2 linked regions of the Homo sapiens genome follow. The protein of the gene in region 1 interacts with the protein of each later gene in a pairwise test. Each region holds a gene or a part of one and is shown in the gene's direction. Other genes may lie near its edges. The genes, in order: MOV10 and CEP152.

Region 1 (3,917 bases):
GATCATTTATTACTTAGATAATAGTTTTAAAGGTTTCCAAGTATCGCATGTTCCAAAAATGAGAGTAGTCCACCCTTGGAGCGAGGCTGCTGACTTCCCTTCAGCAGTAGGATTGCAGGAGGGCTTTGTGCATCCACCCCAGAGGGGCGTTCTCAGAGTGTTGGAGGGTGAGGGGTTTTCTGTGTTTTCTTCCCTCGATTCTGCAGCGCTAAGGGCTATGACCTGGAGTTAAGTATGGCGCTGGGGACATACTACCCACCTCCCCGCCTCAGGCAGCTGCTCCCCATGCTTCTTCAGGGAACAAGTATCTTCACTGCCCCTAAGGAGATCGCAGAGATCAAGTAAGTACCATCCCTCTGCACCCCGCACTCTCCCGTCTTTTACCTACTGGCTTCTTTGCATTGCCCTGGCACCTCCGTCCTCAGCCTCCCAGGCTGTATTCATTCATTCCCTTACTGAGCACGCACCATACACCAAGCACCATTCAAGGTGAACCAGTCAAATGAAGGCCTGGCTCATTTTAATGGGGGACAATGAGCATTTTTGTTACAATTTCATGGAGTGATGAGTGCTGTGAAGAACTAAACAGGTCAGGTGTAAGTGGCTCATGCCTGTAATCTCAGCACTTTGGGAGGCCGAGGCAGGTGGATCATTTAAGCCCAAGAGTTCAAGACCAGCCTGGGGCAACATAGTGAGATTCTGTCTCTACAAAAAAAAATTTTAATTAGCCAAGTGTGGTGGCACATGTCTGTAGTCCCAGCTACTTGTGAGGCAGAGGTGGGAGAATTTCTTGAGCCCAGGAGGTTGAGGACACAGTGAGTGAGCCCAGATCATGCCACTGCACTCCAGCATGGGTGACAGAGCAAGATCTTGTCTCTAAAAAAGATGAACAGAACTATACTGAAACTAAAGCAGGGTTAGGGAATGGGTTGGTGCTGCTTTGCAGAAGGCCAGTTAGTCCTGGCCTGTTTGAGGTAGTGATGTTTGAACAGAGAAGGACATTTGAATGAGGTGAGGGTGGGAGTCATGAGAGGATTGGAGGAGAATGTTCTGGCCATAAGAGCCACCATGCAAATGCAAGTCGGGTGAGGTGGGGGCAGGGGCATCCAAGGAAGCAGGAGCCAAGGCTTCCTTCTTCAGGGCCTCTGACTCTCATCCACTTCTGTATCCCTCTAGTCTTCTCTGCTTTTTGACGCTAGTTCCAGAGCTTCAGGTGGGAGAAGGTGGATACTCCTGGGCATAGGGGTTGTCTGGCCCATCCTGTTCCTGCCCCCACTCACCCCTCCCAACCATCATTTCCAGGGCCCAGCTGGAGACAGCCCTGAAGTGGAGGAACTATGAGGTGAAGCTGCGGCTGCTGCTGCACCTGGAGGAACTGCAGATGGAGCATGATATCCGGCACTATGACCTGGAGTCGGTGCCCATGACCTGGGACCCTGTGGACCAGAACCCCAGGCTGCTCACGCTGGAGGTCAGGGCTCAGATTGAGTGTGAGGAGGGTGGGCTCAAGCCAGCCAAGCTAGAGGCTGTGGGCAGAACTATTCCTGACAGCAGGGCAGAACAAGAGGAAAGTTGAAGTGGTTCCCAGGGCTCCGCAAGAAGCAGGGTGGGCATCCTGTGCCCAAAGATGTGTTGGAGCAGGGAAATGGGGAAGATCTGGGTTCTAGTCCAGGCTTTGCTACCACCTTGGGTAAGTCCCTGGCTTTCTCTAAGCCTTAGTTCCCTTATCTGAAAAGCACAGAGCTGGACTGGATAATTCTTAGAGCTCTTTCTGGCTCTTGGATTTTCAATGTGTGCATATAAGCCCAAAATTACACACGAGAATGGATTTCTACACACAATTGCAGGTGGGAATTAGAGGGTGAGTTTGTTCAAGGAAAGATTACTGCAGGAAGTGAGTTTTGAACAAGTTTTTTGTTGTTGTTGTTTTTGTTTTGAGACAGGGTCTCACCCTGGTGCTCAGGCTGGAGTGCAATGGCATGATCTTGGCTCGCTTTAATCCCCGCCGCCCGGGCTCAAGTGATCCTCCCAAGTAGCTGGGACCACAGACATGCCCCACTACGCCTGGCTAATTTTTGTATTTTTTGTAGAGATGGGGTTTTGCCACATTGGCCAGGCTGGTCTCGCAACACCTGGACTCAAGTGATCCGCCTGCCTCAGTCTCCCAAAGTGCTGGGATTACAGGCGTGAGCCACCATGCCTGGTCCGTTTTTTTTTTTTTTTTTTTTTAATTATTTTTTTAGCAACCCGATTAACTGATGAACAGGATTTTTATAGGCAGAGCAGGAACTGAGCTGGCCAAGAGGGCAGCTGCACTGGAGGCTCCGGGTTCCTGGGCTCGGCATCTCTGGGCAGCTTCGGAGGATTTGTCTTCTTCCTCTTCCCCTGACTCCTGCTGGTATGAAAGGAAAGAGGGGTGCAGGGATAGCATAACTCCCTGAGTCTTAGGTTAGAAGGCCAGTCTCAGTCCTTGTCCCTTAAAGGTCTGGGGAACCTGGGGGCTGGGCCCTCCAGCGTCCATCCCTGGGACAGAAGCTTGCTTGTGTTCACACCCCATAGGTTCCTGGAGTGACTGAGAGCCGCCCCTCAGTGCTACGGGGCGACCACCTGTTTGCCCTTTTGTCCTCGGAGACACACCAGGAGGACCCCATCACATATAAGGGCTTTGTGCACAAGGTGGAATTGGACCGTGTCAAGCTGAGCTTTTCCATGAGGTGGGTGTTGGGGGAACCCTGAGCTGCTGGAAGGGTCTACAGACTTCTGACCCCAGGGGAGGAGGAGTGTTTCTCCCTGAGATAAATGAGACCCCGGGGCAGAGCAGGAGACTTTTCCTCAGGGGTACCCTGAGATGCTACGGCAGCTTCCTCTTCTAGAGAACTTGCATAGAGGTCTTGGAAAGAGGGGTTGGGACACTGGTTGGTGGAGAAAGTTCTGGCCCTTTATTGCCCACCTCCCCTGCCCCAACAAACTCTTACCACCTCTCTCTGCCCAAAGCCTCCTGAGCCGCTTTGTGGATGGGCTGACCTTCAAGGTGAACTTTACCTTCAACCGCCAGCCGCTGCGAGTCCAGCACCGTGCCCTGGAGCTGACAGGGCGCTGGCTGCTGTGGCCCATGCTCTTTCCTGTGGCACCTCGGGACGTCCCGCTGCTGCCCTCAGATGTGAAACTCAAGTGAGACTGTGGGCAGGGAGCTTCTGGAGCCACTTGGAGTGTGGGCACAGGGGGTGGAGTCAGGGAGGCCTCTGGGTCACTGGATGACTTCAAGTTCACATTCCTGGTCCCTCTGCCAGGCTGTACGACCGGAGTCTGGAGTCAAACCCAGAGCAGCTGCAGGCCATGAGGCACATTGTTACGGGCACCACCCGTCCAGCCCCCTACATCATCTTTGGGCCTCCAGGCACCGGCAAGACTGTCACGTTAGTGGAGGCAATTAAGCAGGTGGGGTCTGAGCACAAACCTGGGGCCTGCACTCTGATTCCCCCAGCACCAAGCAGTTGTCCCCAGATTCTAGTTCCTTCCCACTCCCGAAATGCTCCTGCTTCTAAGCAGCCATCAGAAAGAGAGGTAGGGGCCGGGTGCAGTGGCTCATGCCTGTAATCTCAGCACTTGGGGAAGACTAGCCCAAGGAGTTCAAGACCAGCCTGGACAATATTGCAAGACCCTATCTCTATGAAAAATATGAAAAATAGCTGGGCACTTGAGGCTGCAGTGCGATTGTGCCACTGCACTCCATCCTGGGTGACAGAGTGAGACTCTGTCTCAAAAAAAAGGGTGGGGATTGGGGAAGTGGGAAGTTAGGGTAAATGTGGCTGTGGAGCACTGTTGTACGGGTAGGGCACTGCATGAATCTTGGAGTCACCATTCACATTTCAGTCATCATAGACTTGCCCTGCCCCAGCCTGGGTACGGCTGAGTCT
Region 2 (3,917 bases), on another chromosome or scaffold:
CACAGGCATCTGAAACAGTTGAAACCCAATTCCAGGACAGTGTGTAACCCAAAGCAAGAAGAAGATGGGATACAGATTTTAAGTGCTGAGAAAACAGAGCAAGGGAATGGTCTGAGTAGGGTTTCTAAGGGGATGAACGTTACAGAAAAGCGACTGGAAATTGCACAGTCTCTTCTATAAACATTTGTATTGGGAACTTAAGGGAAAAGAAGGCTTAAAAAATTTTTAACTGTCTAATATACTATAAACTTTCTGTTATAGAAGAGAATAATAAAGTTGTTGAAGAATTAATAGAAGAAAACAACGACATGAAGAATAAATTGGAAGAATTGCAAACACTTTGTAAAACACCACCAAGGTATACTTTTACTATTTTAAAGTGCTATTTTAAAGAAATCTAAGTACAAGTATCTTTAAATTTTTTTAAGTATCAATTTTTTTTGTTATACAGCAAAAAGTATAAAAAAGAAGAAAATCCCCCAAAACCTTATTTCCTGAAGATACCCTCTAGTGACCTCTTGTTTTATATCATTTAAGCCTCTTTCTACACATACTCCACATGCACAATGTGTTTTTAAAATTGAGGCTATAGTATAAGGTATTTTATAACTTTTTATTAATATTACTAGATAAGCATTTCTCCATGTTATTAGATATTCTCCTACATATGTTTTTCAATACCTGCATAAATTTTCATGTGGATTTACTGTTATTTATTGAAGCAACCATAACATTTATGTTGTTTCCATTTTTCCCCTATTTTAAATAACTGTATAGTGGAGATTGTTCTAGATGAGATTTTTAGCACTTCTCAGTTAACTTTATTAGAGTATATGGATACATATATATTTTTCAAATGAAATTTTTCACTTACCATTTCTGTTTTTGTAATCTTTGGTTTGTTTTTTAGGTCATTGTCAGCAGGGGCCATTGAAAATGCTTGCCTGCCATGCAGTGGGGGAGCCTTGGAAGAACTTCGTGGGCAGTACATTAAAGCTGTAAAAAAAATTAAATGTAAGTTTAATTCTGAAGATTTTAAGGATGGCTTGGGCCTTTTTTATTATCACTGTTAAAGTAAACTCAGAGTTTACCAGCAGTAGTTCTTCTAGGGAATTTTCCAAATTACCTTTTTCTTCAATCTTAAAAGAGATTATTGATACCTTTTCAAAATTATGTAGTCATTGATCATTTTTCCCAAATAATATCTTTTGGAAGTGATGTGAGAATCGTCTTATGTTTATATTGTTGATTTTCTTGTTTCTTTTTGGACACTAGTATTAAACTGAAAAGTTAATAATCTTACAACTTAACTAATTTGTAGTAAAGAAAATGTCACATGGGTTTTAAATGAGCAATTAACTATTACTTCCTACCATAAACTTTTTTTTTTTGAGACGGAATCTCACTCTGTCAACCAGGCTGGAATGCAGTGGTGCAGTCTCGGCTCACTGCAACCTCCGCCTCCTGGATTCAAGCAATTCTCCAGCCTCAGCCTCCTGAGTAGCTGGGATTACAGACATGCATCACCACACCCAGCTAATTTTTGTATTTTTAGTAGAGACAGGGTTTCACCGTGTTGGCCAGGCTGATCTCGAACTCCTGACCTCAGGTGATCCACCCGCTTCGGCCTCGCAAAGTGCTGGGATTACGGGCGTGAGCCACTGTGCCCGGCCTCCTACCATAAACTTTTAAGGACTGTAGAAGTGGATCTAGTTAGCAATTGTTCTGTTGTTTCTGGTTATTATTTCTCATAGCTATAAATTTATCAAGTCCTTGTCAGTACCAGGTTGTGCCAGCATATCCTGTAGAGCATTCTCCTGATGTGTGTTTTCCCTGTTTTGAATACTTCTTGGTTTCTAATTCTAATATGCATAGAATGGATATATGTCCCAAAACAATAAGTAGTGTTTATATAGGAAAAATGTATATTAACTTCCTAAAATTACATTTCTTTTTAACAAAAAGAGCAGGAAAAGTCTGAAGTTTCAAATATAATTGGTAGATTCAGAATCACGTGTAGATGTTCTACAAAGCTCATTCGGTATTTATAAGGGAATTTGCTTCTCCGTTGTTACTGGTGCTAATAAAGGGCATATTGCTACAAGCAACGCAACTTTTTGTTAATAATGTATTAATTGGGAAGTGGAATTTTAAGCATGTTTTCATCCTAATGTGATAACTTGTATGTATGTGTGTATATTATGTTTTAGTTATTTTTTAGAAAGTTGGTTGGAGGTTTTGTTTTGACATGTACTGCATTTCATTTTCCATTTCAAATAATGAAAAACAGTCTCCCAGTTAGTATTTTTGCATAGAACCACTAATTTTCAGATGCTTACTGACATTAACAGGAAGATTCCTGTATGAATTGGTATCCTTAATATAACAGAGATGGTGAAATTCTAGATGTAGGATGTAGTCTTGGATTTATTAAAAAAAAAAATAAAAGTTAGCCTTAGCTAATAGTAGTCCTAATCAAAGATATATTGAGTTAAAAAAAAAAACTTGAAAGCTGTGGGCTATGTTTATATGTAAATTTCAGAGGCCAACTATAAGTCCCATCACCCTCCTTGTAGTCTCATTTTGTACATATCTCTTATGAATTGTAATATTATATTTAGTTAGATGCTCAAAAAGTGCTGCTGAAAGAATTTTCAATAAATAATGGAACGTAAATTTTCAGAGCACTAGAGAAGAATGAGTCTCTCCAGCTCATACTGCCTCCTTTTCTTCTGTCTTTGTGTTTGCTTTTTCCTTTCTTTCTGCTTAACCTTTTCTCTATATTTTATTTTTCTCTTTTCCTAACTGGACATAATGTACAATTGAAATACTAAGTTTCTGTACCTCATATTTACAGTATTTTCTTCGCTAAGTGTTTTAGAATATGACAAAATTTAGCTGGGGAATATGCCATGTTTCCTTACTATATGTAGCTGTCATCATTCCGAAAGAACTTATAGAGTACTTCTCATTTGAGTCTACCAAAATGATGATCTAAAATATTCCATTTTAATGACTGTGGAAAGTATAATGTTTAAACTATACTTAAAATCACTTCATCTACCAGAAAATTGATCTGAAGTCTGCCCCTCCTGTTTCTGAAAAAGTGCTAATAAACATACATTCTGTGGGCATTTTCTCACTTCCCTATAGGTGACATGCTTCGTTATATTCAGGAGAGTAAGGAACGAGCTGCAGAAATGGTAAAAGCAGAGGTACTGCGAGAACGTCAAGAAACCGCCCGAAAGATGCGCAAATATTATTTGATTTGCCTCCAACAGATTTTGCAGGATGATGGAAAAGAAGGGTGAGTTCAGTCTGAACAATGTGTCCTGAGATTACCAGGACAACATGTTATCATTTTTAAAGCATTTTCCTTAACCACTAAATTAACTATTTCTACATGATCAGCCATAGGGGGTTAAGAGAGGTTTATGGCTGTGCTACCCTAAATGTTGGCAGAGCCAATAGGAAAACAGAAACCATGGGGCTAAGGCAACTCATTTTTTCCTTTAAACTATATTTTTAATATTCTGGAATTCCCCACAGGGCTGAGAAAAAGATTATGAATGCTGCTAGCAAACTTGCTACAATGGCAAAATTACTGGAAACACCTATTTCTAGTAAGTCCCAAAGCAAAACTACACAGTCAGGTATGTCAAAGTGAGTCGCCAAATGGTTTTTCTATCTTTTCTTCTTTAGCTATTTAATATTTTCAGTATGAAGAAGGCAGGGAAGGTAAGGAGTGAGAGTTAATTTGTGAAGTTTTGTATGTTTTACTTAAACTAGAAGTTTACGCAAAAAGAGTACACAGTTTCCAATTTAAGTAGGCAGACTGAGCATGCCCATCAGTTTCCTATTGCTGCTTCCATCCCTCGAAATGATAGAAAAGATTTTAAACAGCAAATAAAGAATGA

The links.
Region 2: the proteins of MOV10 (region 1) and CEP152 interact in binary tests that used the Homo sapiens proteins (3 or more experiments, as listed by UniProt).

The regions. Positions count from the first base shown.
Region 1 is NC_000001.11:112,691,459-112,695,375, forward strand, and holds part of MOV10 (helicase MOV-10), read left to right. Parts: intron 1-206; coding exon 207-341; intron 342-1,302; coding exon 1,303-1,471; intron 1,472-2,559; coding exon 2,560-2,714; intron 2,715-2,994; coding exon 2,995-3,171; intron 3,172-3,290; coding exon 3,291-3,438; intron 3,439-3,917.
Region 2 is NC_000015.10:48,741,337-48,745,253, reverse strand, and holds part of CEP152 (centrosomal protein of 152 kDa), read left to right. Parts: intron 1-261; coding exon 262-358; intron 359-910; coding exon 911-1,014; intron 1,015-3,153; coding exon 3,154-3,307; intron 3,308-3,549; coding exon 3,550-3,653; intron 3,654-3,917. UniProt on the Homo sapiens protein: Necessary for centrosome duplication; the function also seems to involve CEP63, CDK5RAP2 and WDR62 through a stepwise assembled complex at the centrosome that recruits CDK2 required for centriole duplication.